Regions from separate parts of the Homo sapiens genome. Here all the other regions are linked to region 3. Evidence: fine-mapped expression QTL. Tissue or cell type: whole blood. Region 3 holds a variant in brackets; each other region holds the start of a gene. Each region is shown on its reference strand, or each on the opposite one. Region 1 holds the start of RHEX (regulator of hemoglobinization and erythroid cell expansion). Region 2 holds the start of GATA2 (GATA binding protein 2). Region 3 has its middle 38 kb from the start of SLC7A10. Region 4 holds the start of CNRIP1 (cannabinoid receptor interacting protein 1).

Region 1 (5,147 bases), not on the chromosome of region 3:
ACCTGTGGTGGTGGCTGTGGGACAGCATCTTCCCCTGCTCTTTCTCTTCCTTCTTCCCCTTGGCCACCCACACCCAGGCAGGTGTCCTCCCCAACCCCAGGACACTGCTCTTGGTGTTTCACAGGCACGTGTCCTCTTTTTCTGAAATTGACATTACCCAGTTCAACATCACCTACTTTACCGGAGTACTTTGGGCTCTTTCAAATCAATTTCCGCTTCGAAGGCTAAAGATTTGTCATCAGCTAAGAGGTTCAAAAGTCTGTGGTGTAGGCTCTCCAAAATTCTGGCAGAGGTCAGTTGACCCTGGCTTTTATGAAGGAGTCTTTGGCATTCATTCATTCATTCATTTATTGAAGAAATATGTATTGGACCTATTCATTGCATGAGGCACTTTCTAGACACTGGGGGTGAAATGTTGGCCAAAACAGATAAGGTCTCTGTTCTTATGAAGCTCACATTCATGTGATGAGAGGCTGACAATAATCAAGTAAACAAATAAATGATCAAGGTGACTTCAGATACTAATAGATGAGAGGGCGATGTGACAGATAGGGTCTGGGGAGCCACCTTTGAATTTGTGCTGAATTCTATCTGAAGATGCCTTCACTAAGAGAGAGGTGCTGTCTCCATGGCCTTTGAGGCCCTCCCCTCCAGTGGTGAGATTTTAACAATCTCCCCATCTGACAGGTTCCCATGCAGGAATGAAAGACATGGAAGGGAAGAGGGGGGCCAGCTCCCTGAGTCCTGTGTCCACCAGCTGCTGCTAAATACCTCTGAGAAACTCTGCTTCTATCTAAGGGGACCTACTTCTCTCGGGAATCTCAATACTTGGAACAAGAACCTCCTAGACGGACCCTTTGGCATAATGAATTGGACCAACTGTAGGTTCCAGGACTAGAGAGCCAGCAATGCCTCCATGAACAATCTCACCCAATTACTCTGCTCAGGTAAGACCAACTGAAAACTAGAACAATACAAATGGTGGTTATTCCTGTCTTCTGTTTCTTTGTTTGTTTTTGTGACAGGGTCTTGCTCTGTCACCCAGGCTAGAGTACAATGGTGTGATCATGGCTCACTGCAGCCTCGACTTCCCTAGCTTAAGTGATTCTCCTATCTCAGCCTCTCAAGGAGCTGGGACTACAGGCATGCAGTAGCACACCCAGCTAATTTTCGGATTTTTTTTTTTTAAAGTAGAGACAAGGTCTAGCTATATTGCCCAGGCTGGTCTCAAACTCTTGAGCTCAGGCGGTCCTCCTGCCTTGACTTCCCAAAGTGCTGAGATTATAGGCGTGAGCCACTGGGCCTGGCTCGTTATTACTGTTGAATAATAGTCTGATCACTGAGTTCTTAAACAACTCCATGAGGTAGGCATTCATATTCTGTCTGTTTCACAGATGAGGCTCAGAAAAGCTAAGTGTTTGTCCTAAGATCACAGTTAGGAAGTGTCTGAGACCCAGGTCACTGTGAGGGAAGAGAGAGACCCTCTCATATTGTTTTATATTGTTTTATACTCAGTACCTGTTTTAAGGAAAAACAACAAGGAAGTAAAACCAAAGACAGGCAGTCCGGCGCCAGGCCCGAAACCAGGCCTGGGCCTGCCTGGCCTAAACCCAGTAGTTAAAAATCAACTCATAACTTAGAAACTGATGTTATTCATAGATTCCAGACATTGTATAGAAGAACATTGTGAAACTCCCTGCCCTGTTCTGTTTCTCTCTGACCACCGGTGCATGCAGCCCCTGTCACATACCGCCTGCTTGCTCAAATCAATCATGACCCTTTCATGTGAAATCTTTAGTATTGTGAGCCCTTAAAAGGGACGGAAATTGTGCATTCGGGGAGCTCGGATTTTAAGGCAGTAGCCTGCTGATGCTCCCAGCTGAATAAAGCCCTTCCTTCTACAATTTGGTGTCTGAGGGGTTTTGTCTGCGGCTCGTCCTGCTACATTTCTTGGTTCCCTGACCAGGAAACGAGGTAACTGATGGACAGCCGAGGCAGCCCCTTAGGCGGCTTAGGCCTCCCCTGTGGAGCATCCCTGAGGCGGACTCCGGCCAGCCCGAGTGACGCGATCCAAAGAGCACTCCCGGGTAGGAAATTGCCCCGGTGGAATGCCTCACCAGAGCAGCGTGTAGCAGTTCCCTGTGGAGGATTAACACAGTGGCTGAACACCGGGAAGGAACTGGCACTTGGAGTCCGGACATCTGAAACTTGGTAAGACTAGTCTTTGGAACTTGCCCCACTCCATCTAGGTGGAAGTGTGGCCTGATCACCCACGACATGCCTGCATTGGCACTTCTGTTCTGGTTTTGACTTGACTTAGATTGTGTGATACTTTGGTTTTGGTTTTGGTTTTGACCTGGCTTGGATTTCTGGATACTCTGATTTTGGTTTTGATTTTGGTTTGGTGTAAACTGCAAGAGTGTGTATGCCCTTTTTACCTGTTTTTTTGTTTGTGGCATGTGTGTGGTGTGGGTGTGGTGTTTTGTCTCGAAGAAGCATGGGTCAGGTACAAATAAGCCCACCCCACTAGGAACTATGTTAAAAAAAAATTCAAGAAAGAATTTAAGGGAGATTACAGTGTTACTGTGACACCAGGAAAACTTAGAACTTTGTGTGAAATAGACTGGCCAGCATTAGAGGTGGGTTGGCCATCAGAAGGAAGCCTGGACAGGTCCCTTGTTTCAAAGGTATGACACAAGGTAACCCGTAAGCCAAGGCACCCAGACCAGTTTCCATACATAGAAAGTTACAGCTGCTTTTATACCCCCTTGCCCCGCCAACGTAGTTAAGAGAACAGCAGCATAAGCGGCTGGCAGAGGCAAGGAAAGACCAGTAGAGAGAAAAAAAGGCCATCTATACCAATTCTAAGTTAATTTAGACTAAACAAGGTCTTAATAGCAAAGGATAATTGAAATCCCAAACTTACAAGGTTTTCAACAAAAGTGAAGTTTGCTTAAAGTTAACAGTGTAACATGTATTATGGTAACTTCTAATCTTGTGGCCTTAGACAGTCTAGTCCAAAGGCATAAAGAAAGTTTGCTTTAAAAAAAAAAAAAAGGAATGGTTATCTTCAAAAAAAAAAAAAAGTGGGGGGAGACAGAATTTATGTAAAAAGAGTGTTATATGGTAAATTCTTGTCCTGAAATAAACTAACTGGTGTTTAAAGAAAAAAAATGTTTGTAATAAGTCAGAAAGTTGAGACACATTGAAGAATTGTCGGCAAAAGTCGTGAAAGAAAAAATGTTATAAAAAAATTTATGCAAAAAATGTTGTATAATTTAAAAGTAATAAGGCCTCCTGAGTACTATTAAAAAAACAGTTTATGTGCAAGGTGTATAAGAAAAGTAAAACATACCTTTGGTAAAAAGATTATAAAGGGGCATAAGAATGTGGATTTTTACCTACATTAAAAGGTTAAAAACAATTATTGTTTTAAAAGTTTAAGCAAGTTTTAAAACGTTAATTATAAAGAAAATTCTGTGTGTAAACATATTAGCTAAAGTTAAAAAGGTATCATCCAGTTTTTCTGTGAACTGGACATTAAAGTAAAAAATGCCACAGGTTTTTCTTAAAGCATCAACCTGCTCTTTAACAAAAATTATAAAAGGTTAAAAAGAGTCTATAAAATCTTACCTTATGGTCAAACATGAAAAATTGGATAAATATGTCTACAAGGTTTTATTAAAATTCAGTTTAAAATTAATAACACACTAATATAAAGGTAAAATTTAGCTTATCTGGTATAAAAATCATACAAGAAACATTATTAAATATAAAATGGTGTTTAGCTTTCTTTGGTCTAAAAACTAATAAAAATTGGTGCTAAAGGAAACATTCATTTTACTAGAGGATCATAAAAGTTAAAGACTTAAAACAAACTTTGGCAATTAAGACAGCACGCCAAGATGCAAGTGCCTGGCTGAAATGGATCAAATATTCCATCTGCACTTTAAACAAATGCAATTGTTATGCTTGTGCACATGGCAGGCCAGAGGCCCTGATTGTCCCCCTTCCACTAAGGTGGTCCTCCAGTTGACCAGGCATGGGCTGCAGGGTAGCTATTTTCCAGGTTTCTACAGCTTGGAGTAATAAGTCATGCCAAGCTCTCTCTGCTATATCCCAAAGTCCCTGCGGGTCAGCCCCTGAGGGCCGTCCAGCTTCCGTCTCCCAACACTAAGTTCACTTCATGTCTCTCATGGCAGGGAGGAGACTTAGCATTCCTTGGAGACCTGAAGGGATGCAGTGAGCTTAAGAATTTTCAAGAGCTTATCAGTCAGTCAGCCCTTGTTCATCCCCGAGCGGATGTGTGATGGTATTGTCGTGGACCTTTATTGGGCACTCTGCCGAATAACTAGAGTGGCACTTGTGCTTTAGCCTATTTGGCTATCCCTTTCACCCTGGCATTTCATCAACCAGAGGAAGGAAAAAAAAAATAATAAGACATCGTAAAGCGAGAGAAGCCCCTTATGGGTCTTTCAACTCTCACATCTATTTAGATGCAATCGAAGCCCCGCAAGGAACACCAGATCAATTTAAAGTCCGAAATCAAATAGCTACAGGATTTAAGTCAATATTTTGGTAGATGACAGTCAATAAAAATGTAGATTAGATAAACTGCATCTATTACACCCAACAGCAATGAGCTTTTCATGAGTTGAAAAAAAGAAAAAACCCATGTCGGCCCCAGCCCTGGGGCTACCTGACCTGACAAAACCTTTTACACTCTATGTGTCAGAAAGAGAAAAAGTGGCAGTTGGAGTTTTAACCCAGACTGTAGGGCCCTGGCCAAGGCCAGTGGCCTATCTCTCAAAACAACTAGATGAGGTTTCCAAACGCTGGCCCCCATGTCCAAAGTCCCTGGTAGCAATAGCCCTGTTAGCACAAGAAGCAGATAAGCTAACTCTTAGACAAAACCTAAACATAAAGTCCCCCTATGCTGTGGTGATTTTAATAAATACCAAAGGACACCATTAGCTAATGAATGCTAGACTAGCTAGATACCAAAGCTTGCTCTGTGAACATCCCCGCATAACCATTGAAGTTTGCAACACCTAAACCCCGCCACCTTCCTCCCGGTGTCAGAGAGCCCAGTTAAACATAACTGTGTAGAGGTATTGGACTCAGTTTATTCTAGTGGGCCTAACCAC
Region 2 (5,147 bases), not on the chromosome of region 3:
GTGCCCGGTTCTAGAGTGCTTCTCAGGCCTCTACTAAGCCGCGGGTGCCAGGTGGGGACACAGAGATGCCCAGGTCTCCCCGGCCGTCCAGCCCCCCCCCCCCTCTGAGCCCTTTGTTTAAAGTTAGCTCATCCGAGGCGGCCCCTTTGGGACCATAAGTTTGCCCTCCCTTTGTAACCTAATTCTTCTCGCCTTTTCCTTATGGGCAGCTAATTGGCCCGCGGTGTGGGGCTGGGGGTGGGGTGTCAAGGAAACCCATTTGCTAAGGGACTACCTTCCATAGAGAAATTTAATTCGCAACCCAGCGGCCTCCCAGCCCCACACTGGCAATAAACCTTGAGGGGTACGGGGAGGAAGTGGGGTGCCTTAGCAGATGGGTTCAGAAGTTCCCTTAAAGCCGGGGCATTAGATCTCAGGCCAGCAGCCATCCCTCCGGGGGGGTTCCCAAGGGGGGGACTACTGCTATAACGGCCCCTCCTGCTCCTTGAGGTTCAATTCCAGCCCCTTAAAGCAGAAGGCTCCCTCCCTCGGCATCAGTGCAGGCTCTCCCACCTCATTACTGTTCTGTGTCTTTGGGAATCGTAGAGTCTGTGGCCCCCACGTCCTAGGTGTCTCGGCACCCTGGACCCAGGCGCCTCCGAGATTCTATATCGCTTCTGACCCCTACCTTCAAGCCTGGCAGGCTCCCCGCGGAACCCTGCTGAGACCCGGAGACAATCGGGCCGTGCTTCTCCCTCCTCCACGAACAGCCACGGTTTATTTGGAGCGGCCGGGGCCGGCGGCCTGACAACTGGTAAATCCGTTTCGTTAGGCACAATTTGTCTGCAATTTGTCAGCCCGGCTGGGAAACGCTCCCCAGACGCCTCGGCTGCCGCACGGGCCCTACCTGGTTCTCGAATCCTGCCTGCTCATAAACGAATCCTAGCACGGGGTGCCTGCGTAGACCTGGAGCTCACCACCAGATGTTCCCGACCTCGGGAGAGGAGGCTTTTTCCAAAACAACGAATTTCCTTCCTTGTTTTCCGGTAAAGGAGCGTTCGCCACACACGGGGTCCCTGAACGCGGGGCCTTTCCCCTCGTGGTTGGAGCAACGCGGAGTTCAAGCCTGGCCGCCACAGAATAATTTTAAATGCCCCGTTTTCAGACAGATCCAGAACGCCGTCTACGCCTACCGGCGGCAGATCTTCAAGCCCGCGGCGGCCCCATTCTTATTGAAATCCCACTAAACGGATTCCGACTCCGGCTTGGGGCGGGGGGAGACTTCCAGACCCGGCGCTCTCCCCCACACGCACCCCAGTCACACAGGATAAAGGGCTGCGGGGCGCAGCGCGCGGGGGCGCAAGCAGGAGCGAGCTGGGTTAAGCCGCGAAAAGCCGGCGCACGGGACCAGCCGGCAGGTGCAGCCGCCGCTCGGCGGCCCGGCTCGGACGCATCCGCCGCGGTGGCCTGGGGATTGGGGGCGGCCGAGACAAAGGCCCCAGTTCGGGGGCCGGGAGGCGGGGGTGCTTTGCGAGGCTCTGGGAATGCCAGGGTCTCGTGGCCTGTGGCTCCGAGAAATGGGAAGACAAGAGGCCCGAGGCGGGCCTGCTGTGCCCAGGTAACCAAATACTCCCTCTGGTTAAAGTCCCTATAACCAGGGTTTCCGGTCTCTGGCAGGGCCAAGGCGAGCCCCAAAGGTAGGGGCCACAGGGCAAACGGACCAAGCGATTCGGGTGCCAGGCGGGCCGGGCCGGGGGCGGGAAGGGCCGGGCCCAGGGAAGGTGGAAGTGGAAGAAACTCACCGAGCGAGGCGCGGTGGGCGGCGCCCCCGGGCGGACGGGGCCTGGAGTAGAGCTGGGAGCAGGGCGAGGTGCGCGGCAGGCGGGCTCGCGGGACCTGGGCGCGGGGTGGCGGCGCTCACCAGCAGAGCCTGGGCGGCACGCCGAGCGGCCGCATGGTGTTCAGCGGACCGCTTTTGTCCGCCTGGTGGGCGACGGGGCCCTGCTAGGATGGATGTGGCGGCAGGCAATAGACAGACTTGAGCAGCGAGTCCCGGGGCGACGCTGGCCTCGCTACCTTCCTGGCGCTCACGCTGCCTCTCTCTCCCCCACCGGCCGCAACGCGGCTTTTTATTTCGACATCACTTTGCGGGGGGGCAGGGGGTGGCGACGGGGGCGGGAGCGCCGCAGGGGGCAGGAGGGTACCCGGGGCTCTGCACCCGGCCTACCAGGTCCAGCCGCCTGGCCGGCCAAGGGCCGCTAGGCACTCAGGGCGCGCACACCCTGTGCATCCACACTCCAGGCCGCTCCCACCCTCTCCGGAGCGCACACGCGCGCCCCTGACCTCAGGGATGCTTGCTCAGAAAGCTTGGGACACGTCTTTACTGAGACTCTCCCCGGGGACCCTCAGGAGCTGTGAGCACACGCACTCACTGATAATGGTACACAGACGCCCGCTCCTCTGTCTTCAACCCACTTCCAGGAGTGCTCACACGGACACGCACACATCCCTGCACATGTGCACACAGCTGTGGCCGCGAGGACATCCTCAGACAGACGGCCTGGGTCACACCGACACACATGGCCATACAATCAGATGCAACTCGGCACTCGGGCTCACACTCAGGACGCCCTCACTGCCAGGCTTGTTTAGCTAAGTGCAGGCGCAGCCCCTCTCCCTGTCCCACCCCCCCTCCAGTTCCTAACGCTGGGGGACCCCCTGAGCACTTTAGAAGTCCACTGTCTGGTGTCCCCCTGGCCCATCTCCTTGGGGCAGACTCTCACAATGGGGGAAGCAAGGAAGTGTGCAGAGGGCTTGTTCACAGAAGTGGGAGTCAGGAGGGGGGGAGAAAGTGAGTGTGGGAGTCCTCATCCCCAGAAGGCCCCTGGGTTTGTGGGCAAAGACAGTCCAGTCCTTGTGCTGCCAAAGTTCTTACTAAGGGATTCAACCAGTCAGCGTCCCCCCACCCCCACCCCTGATTCCCATTCCAGCAGATCAGGGAGAGTGAAAGTGGCCTGGGGACCTTGAGCCCAGAGGGAAAGTGCTTGGGCTTGGAAGGACTGGGAAATCTGTGCTCCCGTGCCCAGGTGTGCCCCAGAGGAGTGTTTCTGTCCCCTGGTCTTTGTGACCCCTGCTGTCCATAGGTCTTTCTCCAAATCTGGTGGTGACTATTGCATTGTGTGTGTGTTCTATGCATGTGGCTCAGAGTCTATGTCCTGTGTGCCCAGGTGTGTCTGTGTGCACTTAGGAGCACACAGGAGTGTCTGCAAAACTGGGTGTATGAGTATGTTCATTTCTTCTTGTGGGTTCCTGAGAGTTTGTGTATTGGGCAGTAGGTCACAGTGTGGCTATTTCATGACCCTGGAATTTGGCACAAGAGAGTGTGTCTGTGGAAATGGTTGTGCGTCCCTTTGGCTCTGTGTCTGTGGGGTCATCATGTCAGAGACTCATGTAATGAGGGGTGGGGATTTCCAGGTGTTTGCCCATGTGTCTGTAGCAGTGTGTGGCATGTCTATGAATGGGTGTGTTTTGGAGTGTGTGTTTGCGTGTGTATGTGCATGTATCTAGGCATGTGTTACTGTGTGTATTTTTGTTGTTGTTGTTGTTTTGTTTTGTTTTGTTTCTTGAGACAGGGTCTTGATCTGTTACCCAGACTGAAGTGCAGCGGTTCAATCAGCGCTTACTGCAGCCTCAACCTCCCAGACTCAAGCCATCCTCCCACCTCAGCCTCCTGAGTATCTGGGACCACAGGCATGTGCCACCGTGCCTGGCTAATTATTTTTATTTTTATTTTTGTGGAAACACAGTCTCACTATGTTGCCCAGACTGGTCCCAAACTCCTGGACTAAAGCAATCCTCCCACCTCGGCCTCCCAAAGTCCTGGGATTATAGGCGTGAGCTACTGCGCCTAGCCTGTGTGTGTCTTTAATAGTTTGTACCTGGGTATCTGCATGTGTCCTTGAACTGGTGTATGTGTAGGTGTGTGTGTGTGGTGTGTTGCATGTGTCTGGATATCCATGTATAATTCTCTTTATTAATTGATGGCTGTTGGGGCGTGTGTTTGTGTTTGTGTATTTGAACATGCATTTGGCTATGTGCATGTCCATCTGTCTTTAACAGCATAGGTATCAGTGTATATCATTGTATCTTTGAACTGATGGTGGGGAGGAGGAGATGTATCCGAGTGTGTCTGCATGTCTACGTACAGCTCCATGTATGAATTGATGTGTGTTGCGGTGGGTGTTTGTGTCTGCGTATCTGGGTTGTGGGCAACTGTGTATATGACTACATCTTTGAAATGCATGTTTCTGTGGCCAGCAGTGCCCTGTTCTGTGGACTGTAGAAAAGTGTGTCCTGGGTGACACGCGGGGTGTGCATCCTGCAGGATCACACACCATCCAGACCTTCCTTAACCAGCAGGGCAGGCCGCCAGTGGAGCTCTAGGGTACCATTTGCTCGGGCACTTTCTGTCTGTCTGTGGGAGGGGAGATGAGCTGATAAGGCTTATCTGCTGTCGCCAGCGCCATGCTGAATAACTGCTCTAATGAGGTGTCCTCATTGGGACCACCCGATCCCAAGGCCCTGGGCCTCACTGGGGAGGGGCATGGGCGAGCTTGTCTGAAGCACAGGAGCAGGGCCTGGGTGCCTACAGGGCCTTTTCTACTTCTGTCTTGTTTCCTTGGAAAGGGGGTTCCAGGCCTTGCACCTCCCCACCCCACCTGCCTCCTGCCTACTGGGCGGAGCTGGGCTGGCCAGGCCAGAGCTGGCTGGAGCCTTCCAGTCTCTGGTCTGTGGCCAGGTTCACAGCCTTGAGAGGGCAGGAGGTATGAGGCCTGGAGATGTGGGGCCCTCAGGGTGGGGTGGATGAAGAGAAATGGAGATTCAGTGACAGAAAGATCCAGAGAGACAAGGAGTGGGGAAAGAGATGGGAGGCCCAAAGACAGATTTTAAAAAAACAATGAGGAAGAGGCACTGGTGGGGACAGGCCTGGAGCTTGGGGACACTTGGAGACAGACAGAAATAAACAACTAAAAAGTGGCAGAAAGGGTCAGAAAGATGGGAATAAAAGCAAAGAAGGTGATAACCACAGAGACATGGACAGAGACAGGAGAGAGATAAGAGAGGACAGAGAGATAAGACAAAAATAGAGAGATTCAAAGAGAGGCGCA
Region 3 (5,147 bases):
GCTCTGGGAACCCTCTTCATCCCCAAAGGAAGGCCTGAGCCCAGGAGCCTGTGAGATCCTTCCCAGGCCCTGGCGCCCCTCTGGTGGGCAGCTGTCTGTACCCCTCTTCTATACTTAGGGGGGATCTGGTGCAGGGGCTTAGGAGCAAGGGAGGTGGCCGGGCCTCTGTAGTTCCTGGAGCTCCCATTTCCTCTTCCACTAAACTCTCAGCATCACCACATGACCCAGACTGTGAACCCAGGGGAGTGCTCGGTTGGGGAGGGGAGTGGAGGGAAACCGGCTCCCTCCTGTCCCAGCCCTGAGCACCAGCACTGCGGTTCCAGCTCCCTGCAGGCACTTCCTGCCTGCTCTGGGAAAGCACAGATGGCTGCCACGCCATCACAGCCCTGGGGTTGAGCCCAGACCCCCGAACCTTGACTGTCCAGCCCTGCCAGACCCCGTCAGGATCCACATAGACCCGATGGGTTGCTCTGTCTCCTTGGCTCTGGCCGAGTCCATGGACAAGGAGCATGGCTCCATCCGCCCCGCTCAGCTCTGTGCAGCCCACAGCCCTGCCTGCCCCACCTGAGGGTTGGGGCTCTCTGGACTGGTCAGGGGTGTGTGCTGTCCCTGCCACCCTGCCCCAGCTGAGGCCTGTACCTGGCAGGGGTCGAGCCAGTAAAATCATTGTCCTGCCCTAACCCATGGTGTCTAGGCAGTATGGGCAGGGCCAGGGAGGGCCCATCCAGCCTCGCACCCCACCACTCACCGTCTTGCTCTCTCCTTTTCACTCCCTCTGTCTCCTGACCTTGGGTCACCTCTTCCCTTTCTTGCTCTCACTCAGTCCCTTCTCTCTGTTTTTCTGTTTCTTATTTTGAGACAAAATCTCACTCTGTTGCCCAGGCTGGAGTGCAGTGGCACGATCTTGGCTCACTGCAACCTCCACCTCTTGGGCTCAAGCGATTCTCCTGCCTCAGCCTCCCGAGTAGCTGGGATTACAGGTGTGCGCCACCACGCCTGGCTAATTTTGTATTTTTAGTAGAGATGGGGTTTTGCCATGTTGACCAGGCTGGTCTTGAACTCCTGACCTCAAGTAATCTGCCTGCCTCAGCCTCCCAAAGTGCTGGGATTACAGGCATGAGCCACTGTGCCTGGCCTGTTTTTCTGTTTCTCTATCACTTTAGTAAGTCCTTCTAGCCCCCAGGACCCCCCAGCCCCTCTCTGTATCTGCACACATTTGTCAGTCTGTCCCTCCACCACTGTCCTTGTTTCCTCTCTCTTCCTCGTCACCCTGCCCTGACCTGGGGGGTTTGTGTCTCTCTGTCTCTCTCCGCCTGTCTCCATCTCCCCCTTATCCTCACTCTCTCTCTGTCTGTCTCTCATTTTCATTCTCTTTCCTTTCCTCTTTCTTTTTATTTTATTTGTATGGGTCCATAGCAGGTGCATATATCTACGGGGTACATGACATACTTTAATACAGGCATGCAATGTGTCATGATCCATCAGGGTTAATGGGGTCTCCGTCCCTCAAGCATTTATCTTTTCTCTGTGTTACAAACATTCTCATCATGCTCTTTTAATTATTTTTAAATGTACAGTAAATTCTTGGTGACTGTCATCACCCTGTTGTGCTATTAAATACTGAATCTTTTTTTTAAAAAAATTATTTTAAGTTCTGGGATACATGTGCAGGACGTGCAGATTTGTTACATAGGTCAACGCGTGCCATGGTGGTTTGCTGCACAGATCAACCCATCACCTGGGTATTAAGGCCTGCATGCATCAATCCTGGATCTTAGTCATTCTACCTAACCATATTTTTGCACCCGTCGACCATTCCCGCTGCCCTCCCCTCCCTCTCTTTCTCCCCCTCTCTCATTCTCTCCCCATTTTCATTTTCTCTCTCTCTTCTCATTCTCTTTCTTCCTCTCTCTGTCTCTGCCTCTGCAATCACCCCTGGTCTTCGCCCTCCCTGTCTCTGCTCCCCGGAGTCCCTGCACGTGGCTTGACAGTGGCCTTGGTAGGACCCACTGGGGTGTTTCTTCGTCGCCCATGGGCCCTCATGCTGTTATCAGTTGGAAATGAATCAGAGATTAGGAAGCGGGGGGAGTGGTGGGGGTGTTATCGCCCAGTGCACACGGGGCTCTCAGCTAATCTCTGGCGGCCCTGGGTTCGAGAGGAAATGCAGTTGCAACACTGAGTCCTTCTTACCGTCACTGTCATGTC[C/T]GCGGCGAGGCTGTGGGGGACACGGGCAAGAGATTGGAGAGGGGAGAGGGAGAGGAGAGAGGGCCTGGCCTGAGCTCCTGGCAGGCGTTTGTACAGGCTCACGTGCACACGTGTGCACACACAGCATGTACACCTCCTGGCCCTTGACACCTGAGCCGTCGCCAGGCCTTGCCTGTCACCCTTCCATTGCCTCTGCATGCCCGCACCTGTCCACGTCTTCCCCTGCCGCCCCACGTCCCCAGCCACCATCTCTCTTCATGGGATGGCAGCTCTGGCCTCATCCAGGCTCTTAGCCAACAGAGTGGCCATATTATTATTATTATTTTATTTTATTTTATTTTTTTGAGATGGAGTCTTGCTCTGTCGCCCAGGCTGGAGTGCAGTGGTGCAGTGTCAGCTCACTGCAAGCTCCGCCTCCCAGGTTCACGCCATTCTCCTGCCTCAGCCTCCCGAGTAGCTGGGACTACAGGTGCCCGCCACCACCCCCGGCTAATTTTTTGTATTTTTAGTGGAGATGGGGTTTCACTGTGTTAGCCGGGATGGTCTCGATCTCCTGACCTCGTGATCTGCCCGCCTTGGCCTCCCAAAGTGCTGGGATTACAGGCGTGAGCCACCGTGCCCGGCCCAGAATGGTCGTATTATTAAATGACCACATGATCGGGCTGCTTTCCGAACTTCACCTTCCCACGGTTCTAGGAAGCAGCCACCATTATCATGGTGGCCTCCAGGCTTGCGTGTCTAGCTCCTGTCCTTCCTGCCCTCACCTCCCACACCCCTTGGCTTCCTAGCACCTGCAGTTCTGCCTCGACCCCTCCTCAGTGCCCCGGCTTTTGCAAATGCTCTCCCCTCTGCCTGGAAAACTCTCCTCCCCATGACAACTCCCATGCCTCCTATGGCACTCGGCTTTCCTGTCCTTCATGAAAGCATCCAGGGTCCCCGAGTGCCAAGCTGCAGCAGGTCCCTTGTCTCGGGGCTTCCACCCTCGAGGCGTGAGCTCCCCCTGTCACCATCCTGCCTAGGGATTATGGGTGTAATTCCTACTTCCTGCTCACCTCCTGCCAGACTGTGGGCCTGATGGGGCAGGGACCGAGCCCTCCAGTCTGTCTAGGGCCTGGCCGCACCAGGCAGTGATTGAATGAACAGATCCATAAACACACCGAGAGACACGGATGTACCCAGGCCCATGCACAGACACACAAATGCAGTCACCAGCCATGCACGGAAACTCACATTGACAGACGCTCAACCTCACAAACGTGCAAACCAAAGTTACCTAGAGACGCACGCAGTGACCAAGACACACACACGCCCACTGTCTTCTGTCTATGCTCTGGGCTCACTGCCTCTCATCCAGCCCTGCCCCTCGGGCAGGATCCCCTGCGGGTGTGGGCCTCCTGCACTGCAGCCCTGGCCTTAGCTCCAGGGGGCCAATCCCATGTTATGGGCCCCCAGCAGGATTCTCTGGGCCCCAGCCGTGGTCTTGCCACGTGACTACTTACAAGTGGCTTTTATGCTAAATGCACATAATAGCACATTGGCATAATATCATTGCCAATACTCACAGGTACCATGGTTCACACAGGGAGCATGGTGTGAAGCTCCTCTTACAGGGCTTGTTAGAGGAAAGTTCCAGCTCAGGCAAAGGCTTGGGGTGGAGCGGACAAAGCTACAGTTTGGCCTTTTCCTCAGCAGCGTCCTGCTTCTAGAATCACCACTAAAGTTAACCCAGGCGAGGGGTTCTCTCCCAGCCTCCAGGAGGCTCCAGCTGGAGGCAAACCGCCGGTCTGGGAGAGGTACAGTGGCCAGGGAGAGGAAGGGTTTCAGGGTGGTGTGGGTGGTAGGGGCTGAAGGCAGGGGCAGCAGGGCAGGGCCTGGAGGCCAGCAGCACAGAGGGTCCCCACCTGGCTTCATTTTGGGGGAGGGGGCTGGGCAGGGTATCTGGCGGAGGAAGCAAGAAGGGGTGGCCTCAGAGACTGGCTTGCGGAGATGGGGCTGCATTCCCTGTGGAAGGGAGTGGGCCTTCACGGCTTCAAGGCCGTTTGTCACCTAAAGCAGCTACGGGCATCTTCTCTCTTCCCTCTTTCTTTTTAGAGACAGTGTCTCACTCTGTCTCCCAGGCTGGAGTGCTGGGGTGCGATCATAGCTCACCGCAGCTGCAAACTGCCGGGCTCAAGTGATCCTCCCACCTCAGCCTCCTGAGTAGCTGAGACTACAGGTGGGCACCACCATGCCCAGCCAATTTCTGTATTTTTTGTAGAGATGGCTGTGTTGCCCAGGCTAGTCTCAAAGTCCTGGCCTTAAGCAATTCTCCTGCCTCAGCCTCTTAAAGCACTGGTATTAGAAGAGTGAGCCATGGCGCCCTGCCTCTCTTAAAGATGGCTTTAACCATCACTTACAGCACAGCTGCATCCCTCCTTGGCGGGGTGGGGGAGATTCTTTCCCACCTCTCTGAGTGTCCCCATCTGGGTCCTTGCTCAGTGAGAGCCAGACTTTCTGCTATAACCAGGCCCTGAATGAGAGAGAACCAGAGTCATGTGCTGTGCACCAAATGCAGTGGGAAGACACGAGGGATGCCTCGGTGACCTTCTTTTCAAACAGGAGTCTTTCCCTGGTAACCTGCCTCTGACCTTCCATCAGCCAGATGTTATCTTCCCAAGGCAACAGTGTTCCAGAATTCTTTCTGAGGTGGCCCTGGCAGCTTCTGGGTCCTTCTATTCTGATTTCCAGTTTTCTTTTTCCATTTATTTATTTATTTATTTATTTATTTATTTATTTATTAATTATAGGGTCTTGCTTTGTTGCCCAGGCTGGAGTGCAGTGGCACGAACACAGCTCACTGCAGCCTCAAACTCCTGGGCTCCAGTGATCCTCCCGCCCCAGCCTCCTGTGTAGCTGGGACTACGGGCATGCACCACCATGCCTGGCTAACTTTTTATAGAGAT
Region 4 (5,147 bases), not on the chromosome of region 3:
GGTTTGAGAACCACAGGATTAGAGTTGAGAAATCCTTGATAGCATTAAAATGTAACCAGAAAAAATAGTTTTATTCCTAACAAATTAACTTTTAGATTAGTTTGAACACTAGAGGAATACTCTAAAAAAAAAAAAAAGAAATATATTAACAGATAACTCCGGGGATAAGGTTGGCAGGAAAGAAGGGAAAGGAAAAGCCTGGATTATATCCAGGTGCACAGAACACTGGGAAATGTGAGAATAAAGGGTGCATGGAGCTGTGGGGGATGCTGACAAATAGATGAATCAGGAGTACCAGAAACCATCCAGATTTGGTTCTAGGTCCTTGCACCTTGGAAGGCTAATACAAGTTTACTGAATTAAAACGTAAGCTATAAGTAGTATCTGATGAATTCAAAGTCCTTCCACCCCCGCAATAATGCCCACCATATGTAGTAGATACAATAAATGCTGGTTTATTTTCTCTCTGCAGACTAGACTTTGGTAGGTAGAAACGAGAGGTAAAGGGGCTCCACCCGCAGTTCTTCCGGGTAGGCTACTGCATGCTCCCACACACTTTCCCGCCAGAGGTCTACTGGGTGCATTATCCAGCGGTCGCTGGCAAGAAATCGTCCCTGCCATGGATAAACCAAAAAACATCCTCTTGCTGTGGGGATGTTGCTAATCCCAGGCACCATCACCAGCCTGAACAGAAAACTCAGGAGAAAAAGAACAGCATACGGCATGGAAAACCGTGAAACTAGGCCAGAGAAGGGGCGGCCGCTCTCTTACTAGTGTCTGCTGCTCCACCCCAGGGTCCCAGCCACTGAATGGCGAAGGGAGTGGGGAGCATCCCTCAGGGAGCCCCAGTAATCACCCCTCCCCTGCCTTTCCACCTCATTCCTCCTTTCTCCCTCCTTCAGCCTTGCGGGCAGACCCTGTGGGCCGCCTGGACCGCGCGCAGGAGGGCTGGGATTGCGGTGGCTGAACCCTGCGGACCTCTCCCATCTGCTCCACCCCGACCGCCTGCGGTTCCGCGCCCAAGGCTGGACAGAAGGCAGGAGAAATTTATAAGAAACAGACAAGCAAAAACCCTGGCTTCTTGTCACTGATTTTAAAGAACCCACTGAGGTCACTGCGATGGGTGGAGGGAAGCGAGAATGGAGGAATACAAGCCAAAGGGAAGGAAGGGGACGAAGGCGGACAGGGAGTGACCTCTTCCTCCAACCCCCGGGCCCGCTGGGAGCGGCGCGAGGCCAGAGGCCCTTGAGAGGCTCGGGCTGTCCTGGGGGCCTCAGTCCTCTGCCTGTACCCCATGGGGGACCCTGCTGCCACCAGGCGCCCCGCACTCACTCGACCTGCAGCGTGCTGGGTTTAATCTTCACCTCAACCTTGTAGGAGGAGCCGGTGAGCAGCTTGATGGTGCGGTTCTGGCCGAAGCGCTGCCCGTCCACCTTGTAAAAGACCGGGCCGTCATTAGGCTGGATGCGCAGCGCGATGGAGAGGCGCACGAGGCCCGGCAGGTCCCCCATGTCTGGGCGAGGGTCTGGCGCGGCGGCTCCGGGGGGCGGAGGACAGCGCCGGCTGCGGCCGAGTGGCTGGAGCGCGAGGGGCGGAGAGGAAGCGCGGGGAGGGTGAGGGAGGTGGTGGAGCTGAGGCTGCCGCTAGGAACCCGCGCCGTCGCCGCCGTCCGCCCGGGCTTTTGAGGAGCAGCTCCTTAGGCTGTGGCCCCCCTCCCCACTCGGCGAGGAAGCGGGCCCAAGAGACGGCTCCAAGGCCGCGCGCTTCCCCATCCCCCGCTCCAGTGCTGCGCCCTCCACGCACCCGAAGGCTCGCTCTGGCCCGCAGGCCGCCGCGCAGATCCGCGCAGCTGGGGGCGAGGGAGTTAATCCTGTTTACGCACCACAATCCCCTTCAGCTGGGGAAGCGGACATTTAGGCTCCTCCTAGAACAGCCCCGGGCAGGAGGAGGAGAGGTTTGGGAGGCACTGGGAAGGCGCTGGAGTTAAGCGACCACTATGCCAAGGAGCGAGACCCCCGGAATCTGGATACCGCCTCGGCCAGCTACGTGAGGTGGACACTGCTGCTCGCGGATCCGGCGCCAGCCAGGCGGGAGGAGGCTGAGGGGGGGTAAAGGGAGGCGGGAAGGGGGGACAGGAAACCGCTAGCCGGTGATTTAAATTTCAGGAAATATGAGTCTTTCCAAAGCTTAGGGGAAATGGCCGAGGAAAGGCGCAATTCCACGTGATGGAGCCACGCTGGATGAGGAATGGATGCAAGAGGAAGAAAATAACCATATTCAAGGAGCTACATCTTCTTGTGGGTGTACATTTCCATTATACGTATGCTCGTCCCAAAAATGACACATACATAAATATATGTAATGAATCACATATATTTACACAGATTTTGAAGGGTGAGCTATTAACCCTGTAAAAGGCAACTGACATGAGCCTAAGGCATTCTGGTGACAAAATGGCCAAGAGGTGGGATGGGTCAAAGGATTATTGGCAGGGGGCCATATGCGACACCGCAGAGTTTAGATTTGCATATTAAGCGTGATTAGACAGTTTTCGTGGCAGAGGTCGGTAGACAGCTGACTTTTGGAAGCGAGGGGAGACTCAGGGGGTGAGGACTATACTGGGAATGGCTTCCCGGAGCAGAGAGAGCACCTGCTTCAGCACCACCCAGATGGATAGTACCAGAGCCAGGGAGCACACCTGGGAAATGAAGTGGGCTAGTGAGAACAAATGGGTAGGGATGCGTTTCCTTGGCAGTTTTTGTTTACCCAAGTTAGACTGCTCTTTTTTAAGAAATAATAAGCTATACATATAATATATATGTAATATGGGTGTTTATTGCAACATTGGTTGCAAAAATAAAAATAAAACCTAAATGAAATGTTAACCAATAAATAAATGGCTGAATAAATTCTTATATACCCACACTATAGAACGTTACACAACTATCAAAATAATGAAATATAGGTTGCATTGGCAAACACACAGGCAAAAACTGTTAATGATAAAAGTGGGATGGCTGGGAAACAAAGCCTGAGGGCGAGCATTTTGTCTGTTTTGTTTGTTGCTGTTTCCCCAGCATGCCAAAATAGTGCCTGACACATAGTAGGTGCTCCAGAAATCGTTGTTGAATTGACTTACGGTTGTGGTCTTAATCATGTCCATATGTAAATTCTTTCACATCTTTAAAATTAATTAGATCCTTGCGATTTACCTGGAATGATGAAAAGAAATCTAATTGCAAGTAGCATCTCTAGTGTTTTAGAAAAATGAAAATTTAAAAAGAATATAAATGTGTATGTTTGTATTAGCTCTTTTAAAAGAATGAGAGAGTTACACAGTAAACTTAATGTTGGTTATTATGGTTTATGAGTAGTGGAAAGAGGGTGAGTATCTTTTTGGGGTCATTTAAAAGCCTTTTTGGAAATTTTGCCTTTTTTCCTCAACCTTTTGTTTAGCAACCCCACAATCTCAAGCCAACTTCCACCTGTGTATCAAAAAGAGCATTGGACCTGGAGGATGATGACTCCATTTTAAAACCTGGTTCTAAGGCCGGCATGGTGGCTCATGCCTGGAATCCCAGCACTTTGGGAGACCAAGGAGGGCAGATCATTTGAGGCCAGGAGTTCAAGACCAGCCTCGCCAAAATGGCAAAACCTGTCTCTACTAAAAATACAAAAAATTAGCCAGGCGTGGTGGCGCATGCCTGTAGTCCCAGCTACTTGGGAGGCTGAGGCATGAGAATCGCTTGAGCTGGGGAGGCAGAGCTTATAGTGAGCCGAGATCATGCCACTGCACTCCAGTCTGGGCAACAAAGTGAGACTCCATCTGAAAAAAAAAAAAAAAACCCACACAAAAACAAAAACAAAAACTCTGGTTCTAGCCTGGCTAGGTAGTGCACTCTTGCAGTCCCCACTACTTGGGAGGCTAAGGTGGGAAGATCACTTAAGCCGACGAGTTTGAGGCCAGTATGGACAAAATAGTAAGACTGCCATCTCATAAATAAATAAAATAAAAAAAACCTAACTCTGCCACTTTTTAGTTTCGTTATGCAAATAACTTAACATCTTTATGTTTCATCTTTGTAAAATGAGGATTAAAATACCTCCTTCCCAACATTGTGAGAATTGAATGAGGAAATGGAAATTGTTTGAAAAAAATAAATTACTTTTCAAATACGAGGTGTTACTAATGCTGGGCAATATCCATTAGGAATAGCATTTTCAGGACCATACAATGTAATGTCTTAAAATGAAATTAATAAATGTAAAAGTAATTGGAAAATTTATCATCACTGATACATATGTGCAAAGAATATGAATATGGAGTCTGATGGATCTGTGTTTGTGTTGCCAGATCTGTGGATTACAAACTGAGTGACCTTGAGCAAAGCTGCTTTAGTCTCTTGGAGCCCCAGTTTCTTCATTTGTAAAATGATGATGGTGACATAGATGATGCATATAGAACCAAATGAAATTGTGTAAACTATGCAAGAATATCAGGCCCATAGAGACACTCAATACATTGTAACTATTTTTATTTAAAAATATACTTGCTGAATATGTAGCAACTTTTAGTTTAGATTCAGGTTTGTTACTGGAGCGTATTGCATGATGCTGAGGTTTGGAGTAGAAATGATCCCATCATCCAAGTCCTCAGTGTCTATTGTTACCAATGGAATGAAGACTACTAGCCAGGGAGGGAGGGAGACAAGTAAGGGTTGAAAAACTGTTTTATGTCCATGGGTACCCAATGGTTAGCACCCACTAAAAATGAGAACATGCGGTATTTGGCTTTTTTTTCCTGCATTAATTCATTTCTTGCTATATATTTTTAAGGTATCTAGTGCTTTCAGTCTTATTGTAGATTCTTTAATTATTACCTCAGATTGGTGATCTTAAACATTGTCTGTCTAATGGACAATGCTTATTATCATTCTTTTGAAAACTGTGAAATTGAGCCCAAGTGAACGATGGACTTAGTTGTCATTCAGAGGAATCACATGCTATGGTTCAAACGATTCTCCTGCCTCAGCCTCCCAGCTGCTTGTGTTCCCCCAAAATGGCTATGTTGAAACCGAATCCACAAAGCAATAGTATTAAGAAGTGGGTTCTTTTGGAGGTGATTAGGTCATAAGGGCTCTTCTGCC

What was found. PIP is the estimated chance that this variant, and not a neighbour inherited with it, causes the effect.
Region 1: RHEX starts here. The variant in region 3 is fine-mapped to the expression of RHEX in whole blood (TOPMed, PIP above 0.99).
Region 2: it holds the start of GATA2, and the variant in region 3 is fine-mapped to the expression of GATA2 in whole blood (TOPMed, PIP above 0.99).
Region 4: CNRIP1 starts here. The variant in region 3 is fine-mapped to the expression of CNRIP1 in whole blood (TOPMed, PIP above 0.99).

Annotation. Positions count from the first base shown.
Region 1 is chr1:206,051,055-206,056,201 of GRCh38, forward strand. It overlaps RHEX (regulator of hemoglobinization and erythroid cell expansion), which reads left to right and starts at 2,119. Exons shown (of 6, transcript NM_001007544.4): 1 at 2,119-2,211. LOC105372857 (a long non-coding RNA gene) reads right to left here. Exons shown (of 3, transcript XR_922473.3): 3 at 2,389-5,147. RefSeq lists enhancers at 1-151, 1,515-1,754, 2,175-2,234.
Region 2 is chr3:128,491,118-128,496,264 of GRCh38, forward strand. It overlaps GATA2 (GATA binding protein 2), which reads right to left and starts at 2,084. Exons shown (of 6, transcript NM_032638.5): 1 at 1,782-2,084. The region is part of intron 2 of GATA2-AS1 (GATA2 antisense RNA 1); the gene reads left to right. RefSeq lists an enhancer at 1-22 and a silencer at 1,794-1,883.
Region 3 is chr19:33,261,437-33,266,583 of GRCh38, forward strand. No RefSeq gene overlaps it. Among named protein-coding and RNA genes, the nearest start is that of SLC7A10, 38 kb to the left of the region's middle. The variant C/T (reference allele first, on the strand shown) is at 2,206.
Region 4 is chr2:68,317,890-68,323,036 of GRCh38, forward strand. CNRIP1 (cannabinoid receptor interacting protein 1) reads right to left here and starts at 2,060. Exons shown (of 3, transcript NM_015463.3): 1 at 1,333-2,060. The coding sequence starts at 1,511.